2 separate regions of the Homo sapiens genome follow, and region 1 is linked to region 2. Evidence: fine-mapped expression QTL. A gene starts in region 2. The other region holds a variant in brackets. All regions are shown on one strand. Distances are from middle to middle.

Evidence for each region.
Region 1: its variant is fine-mapped to the expression of RNF114 in whole blood (INTERVAL, PIP above 0.99). The same link has a PIP of 0.9 or more in lung.

Annotation. Positions count from the first base shown.
Region 1 is chr20:49,878,065-49,887,791 of GRCh38, forward strand. SLC9A8 (solute carrier family 9 member A8) reads left to right here. Exons shown (of 16, transcript NM_015266.3): 13 at 2,860-2,971; 14 at 5,782-6,002; 15 at 8,688-8,834. Among named protein-coding and RNA genes, the nearest start is that of MIR12122, 19 kb to the left of the region's middle. The variant T/C (reference allele first, on the strand shown) is at 4,103.
Region 2 is chr20:49,929,849-49,939,455 of GRCh38, forward strand. It overlaps RNF114 (ring finger protein 114), which reads left to right and starts at 6,549. Exons shown (of 6, transcript NM_018683.4): 1 at 6,549-6,704. The coding sequence starts at 6,565. RefSeq lists silencers at 4,111-4,311, 5,750-5,829, 6,396-6,585, 7,044-7,338, 7,624-7,918 and 1 more and an enhancer at 6,198-6,803.

The DNA.
Region 1 (9,727 bases), 52 kb before region 2:
TAAGTATTTTCCTTTTTTTTTTTAAATTTAATTACTTATTTGTAGATCAATAAACACATGTTCCGGATTCATTTATGTAACTGTTAACTGTTCAAAGTCAACAGCTACATAGACACTCTTTTGTTTAAAGTTTCTTTTGTTAAAAAAAAAAAATCACAAACATACAGTAAGGGGGCAGGGGTAGAATTAAGTGAATAAATATCCCCAGAAAGGACTTTTGCTTGTTTTTTAAGATTTTTAATGGCCTTGAATATTATGGTCTTTAAATAAAAGTACAGGTTTGTAAGTTTTTGTGTGAGGAGGTAAAAGCAGATTTCAAAATTGAATATGTAATTGATCATAACCATGTAAAAATATTATGCACAGAAAAAAGAAAATATGTAAAGAAAATATAGCCACATGTTCACAGTGGTCATAGAGTTGGGATTTCTTTCTCTTTTCTGCTTTTTCTGGATAATTTATTATGTACTTCTTACTGCAGTTTTCTTCAAATTTGTCTATTTATATTTGTCTATTTGTCTGTTTATAAGATATTGTTCCTGCAACCTGGGTACTTCCATCTCTCAGTCAGCAAGAGCTCATTGCTCTTGGTCACTGTTATTTGTCCTCCAAACTCAGGTTTCAGGGCAAGAGAGAAGCAGCAAAAGTCCTTTACAGAAAGTATAATAGCCTAGGCTGGGCGCGGTGGCTCACACCTGTAATCTCAGCACTTTGGGAGGCCGAGGCTGGCGGATCATGAGGTCAGGAGTTTGAGACCAGCCTGGCAAACATGGTGAAACCCCATCTCTACTAAAAATACAAAATTAGCCGGGCGTGGTGATATGCGCCTGTAATTCCAGCTACTCAGGAGGCTGAGGCAGGAGAATCGCTTGAACCCGGGAGGCGGAGGTTGCAGTGCAGTGAGCTGAGATCATGCCATTTGCACCCCAGCCTGGGCAAAAAGAGCGAAAGTCCATCTCAAAAAAAAAAAGTATAATAGCCTTTAGTGTGGCCACTGGGGAAAAGGGACACATTTGATCAAACCTGAAACAAGTGTAGGCATGGAAGATTGGATTTCAGTGGGTGAAACAGGGAGGTGACTATTTCAGCCACAGGTTGGGAGGAAAATGAAAGGATGCCCTGGGGTGACAACTCAGTTTTCTCTAAGCAGTTAGGCCCAGGCTGGCCCTGCAGCTAGTGGAGATGGCCTATTCAGGTGGGTTACAGTTCCTGCCCTGTAAACTCAATTTAGTGGTCAAGAGCATGGGCTTTGGGGTCTGAACCAGATTTGAGACTTGGATCCATTACTTCCTGCCTTGTCAACTTGGACCAATTACTTCATCTCTCTATACCTCAGTTTCCTTGTCTATAAACTGGAGACAACAATACCTACTTTGTAAGACCTTTGCAAGGATTTAAATTTAGCAGGATAATGCATGTAAAATGATTAGCATGTTGTCTGGCATAGAAATGTTTGATGATTGGAAACATTTACTCTTGGCCAGGCATGGTGGCTCACGCCTATAATCCCAGCACTTTGGGAGGCTGAGGCGGGTGGATCACTTGAGGTCAGCAGTTTGAGACCAGCCTGGCCAACTTGGCGAAACCCCGTCTCTACTAAAAATACAAAAATTAGCCGGGCATGGTAGCACACGCCTGTAATCCCAGCTACTAGGGAGGCTGAGGCAGGACAATTGCTTGAACCCGGGAGGCAGAGGTTGCAGTGAGCCAAGATCACGCCACAGCACTCCATCTCAAAAAAAAAAAAAACTCTCAAATTCATGCTTGTTAAAGGAATAAACTTAAAGCCTAAAGAATGTACTGTACATGTCTATATCATCCTTTTCAAGTAGTTATGGTGAGAACCAAGATGAAGAAAATGAAAGTAAAGTAATAAATGTCCTAAGAATCCACTTAGATAAGATTTAAACTTTAGGCTGGGTGCAGTGGCTCACACCTGTAATCCTAGCACTTTGGGAGGCAAAGGCAGGAGGATTGCTTGAGACCAGGAGTTTGAGACCAGCCTGGGCAACATAGCAAGACCTCATCTTTAACTAAAAAATTTTAAAAAGTAGCCAGGCATGGTGGTGCATACCTGTAGTTCTAGCTACTTGGGAGGTTAAGGTGGGAGGATCACTGGAGCCCAGGAGGTTGAGGTTGCATTGAGCCACAATCACACCACTGCACTCCAGCATGCGAGACAGAGTGAGACTTTGTCTCAAAAAAAAAAAAAAAAGATGTAAACTTTACATAAAGCTGTACTTTGCCAAGACTAACATGCCTTTGGAGATGGAGAGGAACCAAAAGCCACAGCAAGCAGCTGGCAGGCTAAGCCGGGGCATGTGGCCTCCTGATAGTCCCTACCTCTGCGTTCCTCTTGCTCAGAGAGCAGTGTTTCCATGCATGGGAGGTCCTTCATAGCTGCCCTCCTTTCCCTGAGGGAGAGGCAGAAACACCTTGTCTGTCCCCCTAGTCCTGGTATGATCAATGCAGCCCTGTCCCAAGGAGGGGCACCTTGGGAGTCAGGTTGCCCTTAAACTAATCTGTGAATACTTCTGTACAGCCTCTTGGCATTCAGTTTTGTTCTGCTGTCATTACTAAAGCCCTTCCTGATACCTCGTCCGTCCTCTCTTTTCTGGCTACTAAGAAAGGTAACGTACAAAGCTTTATCCTTTCCTAGATGCATAGAATCCCGCAGCTGTGGCAGCACGCCCATGCTGGGTCTCTGACGAGCATGGTGTTGCTCGTGTCTTTTGTGGCTGAGGGGAATACTGCATTTGTACTGGATGTGTTACACAGTCTGCATTAGCTTCATCCAAGAAGCTTCAGCTTGAAGAGCCAGATGTTTTCACCTAAGACTTAGTTTGTTGCTATCAACAGGTGCTTGTACTATTTGGCAGAGCGGTAAACATTTTCCCTCTTTCCTACCTCCTGAATTTCTTCCGGGATCATAAAATCACACCGAAGATGATGTTCATCATGTGGTTTAGTGGTAAGTCAAATCTTGGATAAATGGGGTGGGGAAGTACCTGTTAAAAGCACGCCCCATACAGGGAGAGCTGTGGTTCTCTGCTAGCGCCCTTGGCAAAACCACAAGTAATCAATACTCCCGTTTAATGGCACCCACTGCAATCAAGATGGTGCCCCTCACCATGGTGCTATGAAGTGGGTGAGGCTTGGTTGGAAGAGGGCAAACAACATGCCCAGGGTCACGTGACCACTGGAGGCAGAGCCGGGATTTCTGCCACTCTCTTCTGAACACCATAGTGCAGTCCGGGATGCAGCTGGGCGTGCTTCAGCGCCTCCCTGGGGGTCTTCTAGGCTGAAGTAATAATGGTCTCAAGGTAGAAAAGGTGAAAGTTGAAACTGTTTCATACCTTATGTTAGTTTTGGATATTTTTCCTTTTAGTCACAAAGTTCTAGTAGTTTAATTTGAATGTTTCAGTTGCTATTTAATCACTTTTTAAAGGACGGAAATGATTTCATACATCTTTGCTTCTAAAGAACTGGATCCATAGGCATCCTTAAATTTATTTTTGAGCAATACATACTGTTCTTTATGCTTTCTTGCTTAAATATTATAATCAAAGTATTTTCCGTGTGGGTTGGGTTATAGCAACACACTATAATGTTCTCTATCCAAAGGCATATCTGCAAGTTTGTCTCAGATTTCTCTTCTTTCAAAAGGCCATGTTTAAAAATGTATATGTTTCATATATATGTACGTATGTGTATATATACATATACATTTATATGTGGTGAGAAAAACTCATTTTTTTCCTAATCTCTTTTGCCAGTGAGGCAAACTACTTTGTAAATGGTTGCAGAAGTGTGTCAGAGGTTTTTGAAGTGATGTGGGCTATTTGGGAAGGGGGGCATGAGGATAAGAGAGCGTTATGGGGAAGGTTGGAGTGTATTTGAAATGGCGGGGGCTGTCGGCTCCTGTTCTCTCCCAGGCTCCCCGGGCTCTTGCTCTGTGGGTTTCCATCCAGGCTTTCCTGGATCCTCAACGAGGGGCACTGAACAAGCCTCTGCTACCGGCCCCTCCCATCATCATTTAAGCAATCAGAGCTTCTCCTCCTTCCCACAAAACACCAGCAACTTCAGCCAGAGTTCCTCCTCA[T/C]GTCCCCCGCAGCTGTGTCCGCACCTCTTTTGCCATGGCCAGACCCTTGCGAGTGAGCCGTGCTCGCTCATTTTCTCCACTTCTTCACCGCCTGTCCACGGGGCTGGAATTGGCCTTGGCAGGTCACCAGTGACCTCCCGCAGCCAGACCTGGAGGGGAGGCGTCCGCCCCCGTCCTAGCCTACCTCCTTCCCACTGCCCCTACCTTCTGGCGAGGACCACTTCACTCTCTTCCCCGGCCTCTGGGCCATGCTCCTCCTTTCTCTCCTTTGACGTCTCCTTGGGCTCGTCCCCCTTCGCTGACCCCTCAAATAGTGGCTTCTTCAGGACTTGGCCCCAGCCCCACTTCTGTTCACGTGTTCTGCACTTCACTGAGTGCGCTCACCCGTCCACTGGCCTTCACTTCCACCTAGTCCCAAAGCTGTTCCCGCGAACCCAGACCTCCCTCTGGGATCCGTACTCCTGTTTCCAGCTGCCTGTTTGGATGCCGTGGGGATGCTGTCATCCCTATGCCTTTGCATCCCCCTTGCCCAAGAAATCCTACTTTGAATTGCCCGGTGGCCTGGCTAGCCGGTACTAAGCACTTGCTGGGTACACACCCTGTTAAAGCACATTACATGTCCCGTGTCACTGAATCCTCTGGCCCGTGACAGGTTTAGAGAGGCTGAGAGTCCCTTGTCCTCACCATGTCTCTGTATTATGTGCCCTTTGCTCTTGCCCTGCCGTCTCCCCATCTGGGTCTGGCCTGCAGCAGCCTGGCTGCCCTACCCCATGGTGATGTGAGCCTCCCCGCTTTCCTGTCTGGGGAAGGTCCTGGTGCTGTCTGCACCATGCCCCCCCCCACCCCCCACCCCCCTCCCCCCACCATCTCTTCCAGGTAGCATTTCACACCCCTTATTTGCTGTGCCTCCTCCCAGCTGCTCTAGGAGCTCCCCAAGGGTGGGGCTAGGACTGCCTGTCCCCTCCGTATGGCACCAAGGAAGCCAGGAAACTTCTAACAGAGGAATGTGCTGTTTTCCAGCTCAGTCCATGCCCCTCAGTTGTGCCCTAGTAGCGTCACAGAGGACCAGCCAGCCTGTCATTACCACCTAAGCAGCCCACAGCCCCATCAGTGCCACCAGGGGCCTCCACAGGGACAGCATCTCGAGATAGGAGGGGTACTGGACACATTGCATCTTGTGCTGTTGTGGGTATTAGTTGAGTGGCCCTGGGCGGGCCATGCTGCTCTTGGCCTCCATCCCTCATCTGTGTGTTGTGGACAAGAGTAGCGCTGCTCGGTGAGGATTCCTGTGAAGATCCAGTGATGCTCTGCACACTGAGCACCTGCCCAGGCCTGGCGCACACACAGGGAGGGCTCAGCCCACAGCAGCTGTCCTGCAGTTTCCAAGACACGAGCATCAGGCTTGCTAAGTCCTCCCGCACCCGCATCTGGGGCTCTGTAGCTGGGGCAGGCCATCTCATTTGATCTGCCAATGTTGGAATGGAGGTGAGTCTGTGGTCCCATCTCTGCCACCTGCTCTTTACACCCCAAAGCCTCACAGGGTGAGCACACACTCTTCAGCAGGGCCATTAGAATAGTCAGCTGGTCGTGGTGCTGGGCCGGCTGGATTTCCAGGGAAGCCAGCCCATGAAGCTGCTGCCTCTTCACTGTGTCCTCTCACACTGTTTGCTGTCACCCAGGCCTGCGGGGAGCCATCCCCTATGCCCTGAGCCTACACCTGGACCTGGAGCCCATGGAGAAGCGGCAGCTCATCGGCACCACCACCATCGTCATCGTGCTCTTCACCATCCTGCTGCTGGGCGGCAGCACCATGCCCCTCATTCGCCTCATGGACATCGAGGACGCCAAGGCACACCGCAGGAACAAGAAGGACGTCAACCTCAGCAAGACTGAGAAGATGGTTAGTACCATGCGCCTGTGGGGGTGGGGCAGGGGGCTGGCCTGCTACGCAGCTGGTGGTCCCCACTGTCAGGAAATGGGGAGATGAGCCTTGCTTTCTTGCTTTGAGGATGCCCAGCACCTCCACACACACGACACACACACACACACACACACACACACACACACACACACACGACACACACACACACACGACACACACACACACGACACACACACACACGACACACACACACACACACACACACACACACACACACACACACACACACCCCCCGGTCATCCCCCCTGAGAAGGAGGTGACGGAACTTGAGTTCTGAAGCATGGCTCTTGGGGTGGGGGTGTCTGGTGGCCTTGTGACCTGCCGCAGCCATGGGGGCTGTGGACGACCCCATCTGCTCCCTCTCTGAAGCTCCATGGGGCACCACAGGAGTCTGGACCTGTGCCACAACCACAGCAGTGCCTCTGCCCTGCCAGCAGCTGAGACACCTGTCAGGGCCCAGGTTTGAGGGTTTCAAAATCCTGTCATTCCCCAGTATGGTTTTACTAAAAACCACCTGTTGGGGGCCTGAGGAGGGGAGGATGTCTTGCGGTGGCTGTGAGGGCCGTGAGAGGGGTACTCCCCCAAGGACAGACATGGTGTGGGGCTGGAGGTACCCAGGCCCCAGCTGTAGGGAGAGCTGAGGTTCTGCAGCCTGCCCACCTCTTCTTCCTACAAGCCACCGCCCCTGCCACCAGGCTGCCTTCCCGCCCTGTCTTCACCCTCAGGACCCCTGTGCAAAGCTAGGCCCTCTGACCGAAGCAGAGGCTGCTGTAGGCTCCAGCCCAGAGCATCCCCTGCTGATCACCATGCATTTCTGGACATGCATCTCTTTCTAGTTCCCGTATTCTAGGCCTCAGTAACTTTAATCAGTCATCAGAGGCCCAGGAGTCCTCACGTGGCCATCCACGGCTAACACTGGAGTCAGGGCTGGCAAGACCATGGCCTCCAATCTCCATGCTCAGCTGGGCCCCTCACCCAGTGCAGTGCTGCTGGGAGGAAACTTCCAGATGGCTGTGAGGCCTGGCTCTGCAGAACTTCCACCACACTAAGAGGCCCTTTGCCCCCACCCCCTATCTACCAACTTTTTTGTTTTTCACAAAAGCTCTAGCTTAGGCCTTTCTGGGTATCAGAATCGGTGGGGGGCTTGCTACACACAGGCTGCTGGGTCTCACACCAGCATCTCATAGGTATGGTATGGGGTCCGAAAGAATTTGTGTTTCTTCTTATTTATTTTTGAGACAGGGTCTCACTCTATTGCACAGGCTGAAGTGCAGTGGCGTGATCGTGGCCCACTGCAGCCCAGACCTCTTGGGCTCAAGCGATCCTCCCACCTCAGCCTCTGGAGTAGTTGGGACTCCAGACAGGCGTGACCCCACCCAGTTAATTTTTTCTTATTTTTAGTAGAGATGGGGTCTCACCATGTGGTCCAGGCTAAGAATTTGCGTTTCTAACAAGTTGCCAGGTGGTGCTGCTGCAGCTGATCCTGTGAACACGCTTGGCGAAGCACAGCACTAGCAGAAACAGGACAGCTCCTCTGAGGATGAACCGCTGAGTTTCTGGAATGTTTTCTGTGGCAGTCAGTGTGCTTGCGTTTTCCTTGGATGATCTCAGATTGTCCCCATAGCCTGCCAGAAACTGGCGCTTTCATTATACCCACTTTGCAGATGAGAATGCCGAGGCACCAAGAGAATCAGACAGCTGTGGGCACAGACTCCCGAGCCTGTCCTCTTTACTACCACGCTGATCAGCAGTCCTCAAAATGGGCTCCCCAGACTAGCAGCATCACTGGAAACCTGTTAGATCTGCAGATTCCCAAGCCCATTCAGACCTACTGAATTAGCACCTCTGCAGGTGGCTGCGGTGGGCTCAGTATTTTGTGGTTTCACAGGCCCCCCAGGTAGATTCTAATACAGACCAGTGTTTGACAACCACTGCTTCACAGCATCTAAATGCCCTCCCCTCCCCGGCCATCCTCTGCCCTCCCTGCACCTGCCCCGTCCCCCTCCCCACCACCTGCAGTGAAGCTGCAGAGCACACTTCACTGTGGCCCCACTGAGACTCCTCCAGCAGAGCAGGCGCTGCACTCAGAGCCTGTCTGCTTTGCTCCTACCTATGACCCGAGTCCCGCCTCTTTACCTCCGTCTCTCCCCTCCACATGGGGTCCTTTTCTTCGTCCCTCCCCAATTCCTACAGGATGTGTTCCTCTCCCCTCTCCTCTCTTGACTTGATTGGCAAAAGCCTGTCCACGGTGGAGTCCTAGCTAATAGAGCCACAGGCAAAGAGACAAAAAGCCTCCCTGTGCGATTTGCTGCTAATGAAAAGCCCAGAACAGCAGTTCTGGTCCTGGTTGCATGATAGAATCACCCAAAAGCTTGAAAAGCTTAAAGACCAAGCCCCAGCCTGGCCCAGTCCTTCTGTTTTAGCTGTCCTAGGTGGGGTCCTGGGCATCCATTGTGCCCTGATGGACGTTCCTGCCTCCCTGCAGGCTCCCAGGAGGCCGTCTGCTGCCCGTCACCCTGCATTGATGGTCAAGTGGAGTTAGGGTTGGGGACACTGGCGGCCTGGGTGGTGTGGGGGCTTCCAGGAGGTGCCCCCCGATGGTGCCAGCTGGTGGCCGTCGGGCCGCCTTTCCTCCCTGCTCAGGGCAACACTGTGGAGTCGGAGCACCTGTCGGAGCTCACGGAGGAGGAGTACGAGGCCCACTACATCAGGCGGCAGGACCTTAAGGGCTTCGTGTGGCTGGACGCCAAGTACCTGAACCCCTTCTTCACTCGGAGGCTGACGCAGGAGGTGGGATACCGGCCAGGCCACACTTTCTGGGGGTCCCTTGCCTGCCTCCTTCAGGACCTGCGGTGGCCCAGGGTGGGGTGGAGGAAGAGTGGGGAGGCAGGAAAGCTCACGTGGGCCCGCCAGGCCGCCGCCTCCCGATCTGGAGGCTGGACGTGCTTGTGGAACTCGGCATCTGCTGTTTTTCCTTCGCTGCCACATTTAGTGCGAGGTTAATAATAGATTTGTTAACACAGTTTGGTTTTCCTGGATGATAGACTCGGGGTATTGATCAGCTACTGAATCGGAGCTGAGGAATTTCAGACATACCAGGGCCTCAAGCTGTGGCCCAAGTCTGCCCCCAGCTCAGGGCTCTGGTTCTGTCCCTCGGGGCACTGCTGGCCTCTCTTTAGTTGGAGGCCTTGGGTAGGGGTGGGGCTCTTCCTGCTGCTGCCCGCTTTGTTTCCGAGCAGGCCCATTTTCCACTCTCCGGCAGGCCTGAGAGCTGCCGGTGTGTGCGCTCTTCCAGGAGCCAGGCAGCTCCAGTGACTGTGACCACGACCGCTTCCTTCTCCAGCATCCTGTGCAGTGGATGCAGCTGTGTCCCTGACAGCTGAGGAGATGGAGGCCTAAGGGGGTGCAGTAACCCCGCAAGGTCACAGCCAATATGGGCATAACTGGGAGCAGAGCTAACTGTGTCTGACTCCAGAGACCACATGTTCAGCCTCAAGCCATGCTCCCTCCTCCTTTCTGAATGACACCTCCCGTGACCTCCACCCCCACAAAGAACAATCCCAGCTCAGTTTGTTCAACTGAAACTGAAGTTGCCTGTGGCCATCACCCTGCCTCCCACCTCCTCCCTAGACACCCCACACAAAACACCCAGTAGCATCCCCTCCCTTCCATGGCCCTGCCCC
Region 2 (9,607 bases):
CTCTACTAAAAATATAAAAAAATTAGCCGGGCGTGGTAGTGGACACCTGTAATCCCAGCTACTCAGGAAGCTGAGGCAGGAGAATTGCTTGAACCCAGGAGATGGAGGTTGCAGTGAGCCAACATGGTCCCACTGCACTCCAGCCTGGGTGAGAGTGAGACTCCGTCTCAGAAAAAAAAAAAAAAAAATCTTTCCAGTAGGGCAATTGACTCATCCTGTTTTGCCCGGGACTTTCCCAGTTTTGGCACTGAAAGTCTCACATCCTGGGAAACCCCTCACTCCCAGGCAAACCTGGACACTTGGTCACCCTACTTTCCAAAGGCATCTATTTATCATATACAAACATATACATATATTAGTTGCATTACTTGGCATCTTGATGTTGTTTTAATTAAAAATATTTTTTGGGCCAGGTGCAGTGGCTCACACCTGTAATCCCAGCACTTTGGGAGGCCAAGGTGGGCAGCTCACTTGAGGTCAGGAGTTCAAGACCAGCCTGGCCAACATGGTGAAACCCCGTCTCTACTAAAAATACAAAAGTTAGCCAGGTGCAGTGGCGCATGCCTGTAATTCCAGCTACTCGAGAGGCTGAGGTAGGAGAATCTCTTGAACCCAGGAGGCAGAGGTTGCAGCGAGCTGAGATCGTGCCACTGCACTCCAGTCTGGGTGACAGAGCGAGACTCCATTTTAAAAAAAAGTTTTATATATATATATATATATGAGATGATTCAATATCAGCTTCATATTTATTTAACAAATATTTATGTAATTACCTAGCATGCACCAGGCATTATTTTGGAAGCTGAAGATAACAGCAGTAAACAAAATTGACAAAACCTCCTGACCTCATGGAATTGATATACTAGTAATTATATCTATTGCATTTGTTTAATCACCCCCAATCATCATTTTGGTTGCTTCCAGTATCTTCCTAGTGTGACAACGCTGTCCTGGATATCCGTGTGCATGTAGCTGTCTCACATGCATGAGGGTATCTATAGCAGCGCTGTCCAATAGATCTTCCTGCAACGATGGAAATGTTCTGTGTCTGATCTTTTCAATATGTAGCCACGAGTCACTTGTGGCTATTGAGCACTAGACATATGGCTAGTAAGACTGGGGAATAGAATTTTATATTTTATTTAGTTGTTTTGTTTTGTTTTGAGACAAAGTCTTGCTCTGTCGCGCAGGCTGGAGTGCAGTGGTGCAGTCTCAGCTCACTGCAAGCTCCGCCTCCTGGCTTCACGCCATTCTCCTGCCTCAGCCTCCCGAGTAGCTGGGTCTACAGGCACCCGCCACCAGGCCCGGCTAATTTTTTTGTATTTTTTAGTAGAGACAGGGTTTCACTGTGTTAGCCAGGATAGTCTCGATCTCCTGCCCTCATGATCCATCCACCTCGGCCTTCCAAAGTGCTGGGGTTACAGGTGTGAGCCACTGCGCCTGGCCTTTTTTTTTTTTTTTTTTTTTTTTGAGAAAGGGTCTCTGTCAGTCAGGCTGGAATGCAGTGGCACAATCATGTTTCACTGCAGCCTCGATCTCTAGAGCTTAAGCAATCCTCCCACTTCAGCCTCCTGAGTAGCTGGGACCACAAGTGTGCACCACCACACGTAGCTAGTTTTTTTTATGTAGAGATGGCGGGGTCTTGCTATGTTGATTAAGCTGGTTTCAAACTCCTGGCCTCAAGCGATCCTCCCATGTTGACCTCCCAAAGTGCTGGGATTACAGGTGTGAGCCACTGCACCTGGCATTAATTTTGTTTTTTTTTTTTTTTTTGAGACAGGGTCTTGCTCTTGCCCAGACTGGAGTGCAGTGGCAAGATTACAGCTCAATGATGCTTTGAACTCCTGGGCTCAAGCAACCCTCCTCTGAGTAGCTAAGACTACAGGCACATGCCACTGCACTCAGCTAATTTTATGTTTGTTTGTTTGTAGACAGCAGGGTCTTGGTACGTTGCCCAGGTTGATCTTGAACTCCTGGCCTCAAGTGATCCTCCCACTTATTTTTGTATTTTTTGTAGAGATGGGGGAGGGAGTTGGGGGTGGTGGGGTGTCTCACTGTGTTACCCAGGATGGTCTTAAACCCCTGGACAAAAGTGATCCACCCCCCTCAGCAACCCAAAGTGCTGGGATTACAGGCGTGAGCCACCATGCCCAGCCCTTTCTTAAATTTAAGCAAACAAATTTTAATAATGATGGCTGACTCCTGTAATCCCAGCACTTTGGGAGACCAAGACAGGAGGACCATTTGAGCTCAAGAGTTCGAGACCAGCCTTGGCAACATGGTGAAACCCTGTCTCTACAAAAAATTTAAAAATTAGCTGGGTGTGGTGTGCACGCCTATAGTCCCAGCTACTTGGGAGGCTGGGGTGGGAGGACGGCTTTTGCCCATGAGGTGGAGGTTGCAGTGAGCCAAGATTTTGCCATTGTCCTCCAGCTTGGGCAACAGAGCCAGACCCTGTCTCAAAAAAGAAAAAAAAAAGCCTAGGCAACATAGTGAGACCCCATCACTACAAAAAATAGAAAAAATAGCTAGGTGTGATGGCACATGCCTGTAGTCTCACCTACTCAGGAGGCTGAGGCAGGAGGATCACTTGAGCCTGGGAAGTCAAGGCTGCAGTGAGCTGTGATCACATCACTGCACTCCATCCTGGGTGACAGAGTGAGACTCTGTCTCAAAAAAAAAAAAAAAAAAAAAAAGGAAAGAAAGAAAGGGAGGGAAGGAGGGAAGGAACAAAGGAAGGAACGAAGGAAGGAAGGAAGGGAAGGAGGGAGGAAGGAAGGAAGGAAGGAAAAAAGGAAGGAAAAATTTAGGCTGGGCACAATGGCTCACGCCTGTAATCCCTAGCACTTTGGAGGCCGAGGTGGGCCGATCGTGAGGTCAGGAGATCGAGACCATCCTGGCTAACATGGTGAAACCCCGTCTCTACTAAAAATACAAAAAAAATTAGCCGGGCGTGGTGGTGGGCGCCTGTAGTCCCAGCTACTCAGGAGGTTGAGGCAGGAGAATGGCGTGAACCCAGGAGGCGGAGCTTGCAGTGAGCCGAGATTGTGCTACTGCACTCCAGCCTGGGCAACAGAGCGAGACTCTGTCTCAAAAAAAAAAAAAATTAATTTAAAAGAAATTTTTTTTGAGACTGAGTTTCACTCTTGTTGCCCAGGCTGGAGTCCAGTGGCTCGTTCTCCACTCACTGCAACCTCTGCCTCCTAGGTTCAAGCGATTCTCCTGCCTCAGCCTCCCAAGTAGCTGGGACTACAGGCATGCACCACCAGGCCCGGTTAATTTTTGTATTTTTAGTAGAAACAGGGTTTCACCATGTTGGTCAGGCTGGTCTTGAACTCCTAACCTCAGGTGATCCACCCGCCTCAGCCTCCTCCTGCTGAGATTACAGGCATGAGCCGCCATACCCAGCTTTTTTTTTTTTTTTTTTTAAAGAACATGATTCAACTGTATTGCTCTCTATAAGAAACTCACTTTATAGACTGGTTCTGAAAGGATGGAAAAAGATATTTCATGCAAATATCTTTTTGCGTGACCAAAGAAGAGGAGGGCTGGCAATACTAATATCAGAAAAATTACTTGTCCAGGCCGGGCACGGTAGCTCACACCTGTAATCCTAGCACTTTGGGAGGCCGAGGCGGGTGCATCACCTGAGGTCAGGAGTTTGAGACCAGCCTAAAAAATATGGTGAAATCCTGTCTCTACTAAAAATACAAAAATTAGCCAGGCGTGGTCGTGCATGCCTGTAGTCTCAGCTACTCAGGAGGCTGAAACAGGAGAATCACCTGAACCCAGGAGACAGAGGTTGCCGTGAGCTGAGATCACACCACTGCACTCCAGCCTGGACGACAGAGCAAGACCCTGTCTCAAAAAAAGAAAAAAGAAAAATTACTTGTCCAAAAGGTTACAAGAGATAAAGAAGGCATTGTATGTTAATAAAAAGTTCAATACAGCAAGAAGATATAACAATTATAAACATTTATATACCTAATAACAGACCATCAGAACATATGAAGCAAAAATTGGTAGAATTGAAGGAAGAAATAGACAATTCCACAATAATAGTTAGAGACTTCAATGCCCCACTCCCAAGAATAAATAGAACAAACAGGAGACAAGTAAGGAAATAAAGGACTTGAGCGACACAGTAAGACAACCAGGTCTAACACATGTACAGACACTCCCCAGCAACAACAGCATCCACATTCTTCTCAGGCACACATGGGATATCCTCCAGGATGGACCATATGTTAGGCCACAGATTAAGCCTCAAGAGATTTTAAAAGGTAGACATCAGCCAGCTGTGGTGGCTTAGGCCTGTAATCCCAGCACTTTGGGAGGCTGAGGCAGGAGGATTGCTCGTGCCCAGGAGTTTGCAACCAGCCTGGGCAACACAGCCAGACTTCATCTCTACAAAAAGAGACAGAAGAAAAGGAGAAAGAGAGAAAGATAAGAAGGAAAGAAAGAAGAAATAAAAGAGATCATACCAAATATCTTCTCCAAGCACAATTGGATAAGGCTAGAAATCAATATGGGGGGGTTAAAAAAAAAAAGAAATCAATATCAAAGGAAAACTGGAAAATTCACAAATTTGTGGAAATTTACACACTCTTAAAAGAACCAATGGATCAAAGAAGAAATCACAAGGGAAATTAGAAAATACTCAGAAACAGGCCAGGCTGGGTGGCTCACACCTGTAATCCCAGCATTTTGGGAGGCCGAGGTTGGCGGATCACTTGAGGTCAGGCGTTTGAGACCAGCCTGGCCAACATTGTGAAACCCTGTCTCTACTAAAAATACAAAAATTAGCCAGGCGTGGTGGCAGGCACCTGTAATCCCAGCTACTTGGGAGGCTGAGGCAAGGGAATTGCTTGAATCCAGGAGAGGGAGGCTGCAGCGAGCAGAGATTGCACCAATGCACTCCAGCCTGGGCGACAGAGTGAGACTCCATCTCAAAATAAATAAATTAATTAAATAAATAGAGAAAATATTGAGAAACAAATGAAAACAAAAACACAGCATGCCAAAATTTACTGGACACAGTGAAAGCAGTGCTCAGGGGAAATTTTATAGCTATAAGTGCTTCAAAATCATAGACAGAAAATTGCCAGGGCCTGGGGGTATGGGGATGGGAGGAGGGAAGAGGAAGTTATTGTTTAATGGGGACAGAATTTCAGTTTCAGTTTAGCAAGAAGACCAGAATTTTAGAGATAGCTGATGGTGATGATTGCACAATATGAAATGAATGTACTTTGTTGTTGGGGTTTTTTTGTTTTGTTTTGTTGTTGTTGTTGTTGTTTTTTGAGAGGGAGTCTCGCGCTGTCGCCCAGACTGGAGTGCAGTGGCAAGATCTTGGCTCACTGCAAGCTCCGCCTCCCAGGTTCAAGCCATTCTCCTGCCTCAGCCTCCCGAGTAGCTGGGACTACAGGCGCCCGCCACCACGCCCGGCTAATTTTTTGTATTTTTAGTAGAGACAGGGTTTCACCGTGTTAGCCAGGTTGTGTTTTTGTTTTTTTTTTTTTTTTTCAGACGGAGTTTCGTTCTTGTTGCCCAGGCTGGAGTTTAGTGACTGTTGGAGTGAGTGAGCCATCTTGGCCCACGGCAACCTTCGCCTCCCAGGTCAAAGGCTTTTCCTGCCTCAGCGTCCTGAGTAGCTGAGGCTACAGGCATGGGCAACCACGCCTGGCTAATTTTAGTATTGTTAGTAGAGACGGGGTTTCACCATGTTGGCCAGGCTGCTCTAGTACTCCTAGGCTCAAGCGATCCGCCCACCTCGGCCTCCCAAAGTGCTGAGATTACAGAAGTAAGCCACCTTGCCCAGCTCCTTTGTATAAATAAATGATATTGATTTTCTTCTTGCAGCTCAGGAATTAGATCTGTTATTAGAATTTGCTTAAATTTAAGAAATGGCTGGGTACTGTGGCTCACCGCTGTAATCCCAGCACTTCGGGTTGCCGAGGCAGGCGGATTGCTTGCGTCCAAGAGTTCGAGGCCAGCCTCGGCAACACAGTGAGACCCGCCCGCTCTCTGCACCACTCCTTCCCCCCCTCCTTTCCCCGTCTCTACAAAAAATACAAAAATAAATAAATTAGTCCGGCATGGTGGTGACTGCCTGTGGTCCAGCTACGCAGGAGGCTGAGGTGGGAGGATCGCTTGAACCCCGGTGGTCGAGGCTGCAGGGAGCCATGATCGCGCGCGCCACTGAACACCAGCCTGGGCGACAAAGCAAGACCTTGTCCCAAAATAGATTAAATAAATAAATAAATAAATTTAAGGAAAAAGCAACTTGATTCGAAGATAAATAGTGATAGTGCAAGTGGTGCCGAACTAACGATAAATTTGGAAAACAGCGGCCCACGCGCAGAGCCCGTCCCAATTCTGGCAGCCTTTGGATTTGGCTTCCACGTTTTCCAGATTTCCCTCGGCCTCTAGCTCGCTTGCGTCAGAGGGGCCCCGAGGGGCGGCCCACCCGCTAGCCCCGCCCCCAACCGCTCACCGCCCCGCGAGCCCCGCCCCCTCGGCCTCCTCCTCATCGGCCGCCGTTGCGCGGCGCAGAGCGGCAGCAAGATGGCGGCGCAACAGCGGGACTGCGGGGGTGCTGCGCAGCTGGCGGGGCCGGCGGCGGAGGCTGACCCCCTAGGACGCTTCACGTGTCCCGTGTGCTTAGAGGTGTACGAGAAGCCGGTACAGGTGCCCTGCGGACACGTGTAAGCGGCGAGCCCGGGCCTGGTCGGGGGGCGCTTAACTGGGAAGGGAATGGAGCCGAGGAGCGAGATGGGTCTCAGGGCGGGAGCCAGAGGACCCACCCAGAGGGGCCTCCCGGGGGTGTCCCCCGGGGCTCCTAAGGGCCGTGAAAGCTGCCGGGGCGCTCTTCTGTCCCGCCCCGCTCACTCCTAAGTATCCCGTTCCTCCGCCCGTCTTAGCGGGGCAGCTGCTGTCTGTTGAGCGCCTGCGATGTTCCAGGCGGCCTGTCAGTCTCCTTCCCACACGTGATAGTGGACTCGTGCCCTGCGGGGACTTTAGGCTCCGAAGTCCGCCCTTGGAGAGCCGACGTTTCCTTTCTAGTCCACGTCGCTCTTAAAGCATAGGACATTTGGCGTCGTGTCTAGCTGTGGCGAGTTATTCTACTGTGCACTAAAGTCGGGAGAAACGCTGAACTAGACTAAAACAACAAAAGGGAAGTCTTTATGGGGATCTGGCCAGTTTGCCCTTAGCTGTGAAAGGGGGGTGGGAGTTGGCAGATGGGATTGTTAGCATTCTACTTCCTGTGTAGGAGGTTTGTTTCTTTCAGTTTTCAATTAAGCCTTCATGACCTGAATATTGTGAATAGAGTGGTTATAATGATTAAAGCAGATATGTGTATAAATGTCCAGTCCAGGTCCTGGGCTGTGGCCGGGGCTTTCGAGGTTGGTCAGGTTGGTCGATTTGAATCTAAGCCTTGTTCCATCAGACGCACAAACACATCTGAGTTGAAAGAATTGTAGACAACGTGGCCACCTGCTTCTTGCCTCAGAATTGGCTTTTCCTCTGGCCCCTCTCAGTGCTTATCGTGGGATCACCTTGGCATTGGTCTTGGCAGCGGGCACAGTAGCCATTGCACTCCATGGGCATTATTCTATAGCCACCCTGCAGCGGGGGAGGGTTGGCAGCCATTTTACAGGTGAATACACTGAGGGTCCGAGGCTCTCTTAGGGAAGGGTCACCGTGGCCTAGCTCTTCCCAGATGTACTGCAGGTGACCATTTCAGTAGTCCAGAGAACAGTGCTTGGCACCTAGCTGGCTGCTTTTTGCTTCATCATGTTGCTTTAGGCTATTCATCTTTGCAATTCGGTTAGCCTGGAACTCTTCCCCCCACCCCTCCCTTTTCAGGCTTCAAGTCCCAGGTTAAGTTACCTCACCAAATACCATCCCCATCTAAATTACTTCCCCCACTTCCTTTCTGGGACTTAACTTCCTTCTCCTTGCTTGCACAGAGCAAAACTTAACAGCTCATGACGGAGTGGCCATATCTTTATTGCCCCTGAACTGACTGGAATGGCCTCTGTGTGCCAGATTTTGGGGTAGACTCTGCCTTCAGAGTTTACAGTCCAGTGAATTGATTATAAATAAGTACCAATGACTGGTCAAACTATTGTAAAAATTCATTCTGCAAGTGGGAGGGTATTTCAGGGATCACACCTCTGTGCGTGGGGTGAGTGATCAGGTAATGGTTGAATGAACTAATAAGTCGTGTAAGCAAGCTTCACGAGAGTTGAAGTGGTCTTTAGCTTTTTCATTGAATCCACTTATCCTTGGATCAGATTTACCTGATTTTGGATTAATTCAGTGGATTTCATTTACTATTAACATTTGTAAAAAGGCTAGACCCAGCACAGTTTGCTAAATGAAGAGCAGCAAAATTTGAGATTTTCTTGAGCTTGGTGAACCTTTCCTAGGTCAGAGGGCAAGGAACAGTACTGGTTTTCAAACCTTGGCTCTTCTCTATCCTCGCTGTCCTAGCCCCACGTGATCAGCAGTTCAGTGCAAATTGAAGACAGATGGAAGCACCTCTGTGAGGGCAGCCCAAATCCCCGCTAGCTCCAACCGACTGCTTTCTCCTGTGCCTAGTTGATTTTTACCTTTTGTGCTTGGAAAGTTGAGCATCACTGCAACTCTGGCTGGGGCATTGGATTTTTATAAAACTTTATTTCAAGCCCTGAATGACTGTGTTCTCCAATCTGGTAGAATACAGCTGGAGAAAGGCAGCTGGCTGGGTGCCCAAGAGAAGGGAATTTCTTCCTAGCACTGTGACGGAGTGGAGCATCGGAAGGCTGAACTAGAAAAGGGCGCATAAGTAGGAAATAGAAACTGAAAAGCCATCCCAGGATATTTGAGTTGTTCAAAAGCAGGCTGGTAGTTTGGGCATGTCTCAGGCACAAAGTGACTCGTGAACATTTGATAGATGAGCTGTACCTGTGTGTGTGCTTGAGAAGAGACTTCGAGCTGCTTTTATCTGCATGCTGGGTTTGGTTCCATTATACTCACTGGACCCTCTGTGCTCTCTTGGGTTCCTCTTGTCATCTGCCTTTGTGAACAGGCAACACAAGTGATGGCCACAGGCCCTGCCTGTCTCTACTGCCTCATCACTTGCCCTTCTCACCATGGTCTACCGCATCATGGCCCCCAAGGTCTGCCTGCCTTCCTTTCCAGTCCTCATTTGTGTGTGGCGTGATCTTGGTGTGGAGCTCTGCACCCAGATCTGTGTGGCTGTCCTCGTAATCAGGTCCCACCCAGCTCAAATGCCAACTCCTCAGAAGCAGCTTTCTATGATCACCCCAGCTGGTCTGTTTGCCATATTTCCTTCATATTTTTAATCACTATCTGAAATTAACATTTGTGTTTCCCTTCACTCTAGAATGTAAGCATCATGAGAACAGGGCTTTGTCAAGTTTCCATTGCCCTCAGTGGTGAATGAATAGACTCCCTCACCTTCTCTGTACCTGGTCTGGAATTTTGCCTAACAGCATTAACATCTAACTTAATGACAAGGAGGAAGGAGATTCTTAGAGGCAGTAGAAAATGGTCAAGTGTTCAGAAGATGGCCTTTCATTATATATCTTTAGTTCTTTCT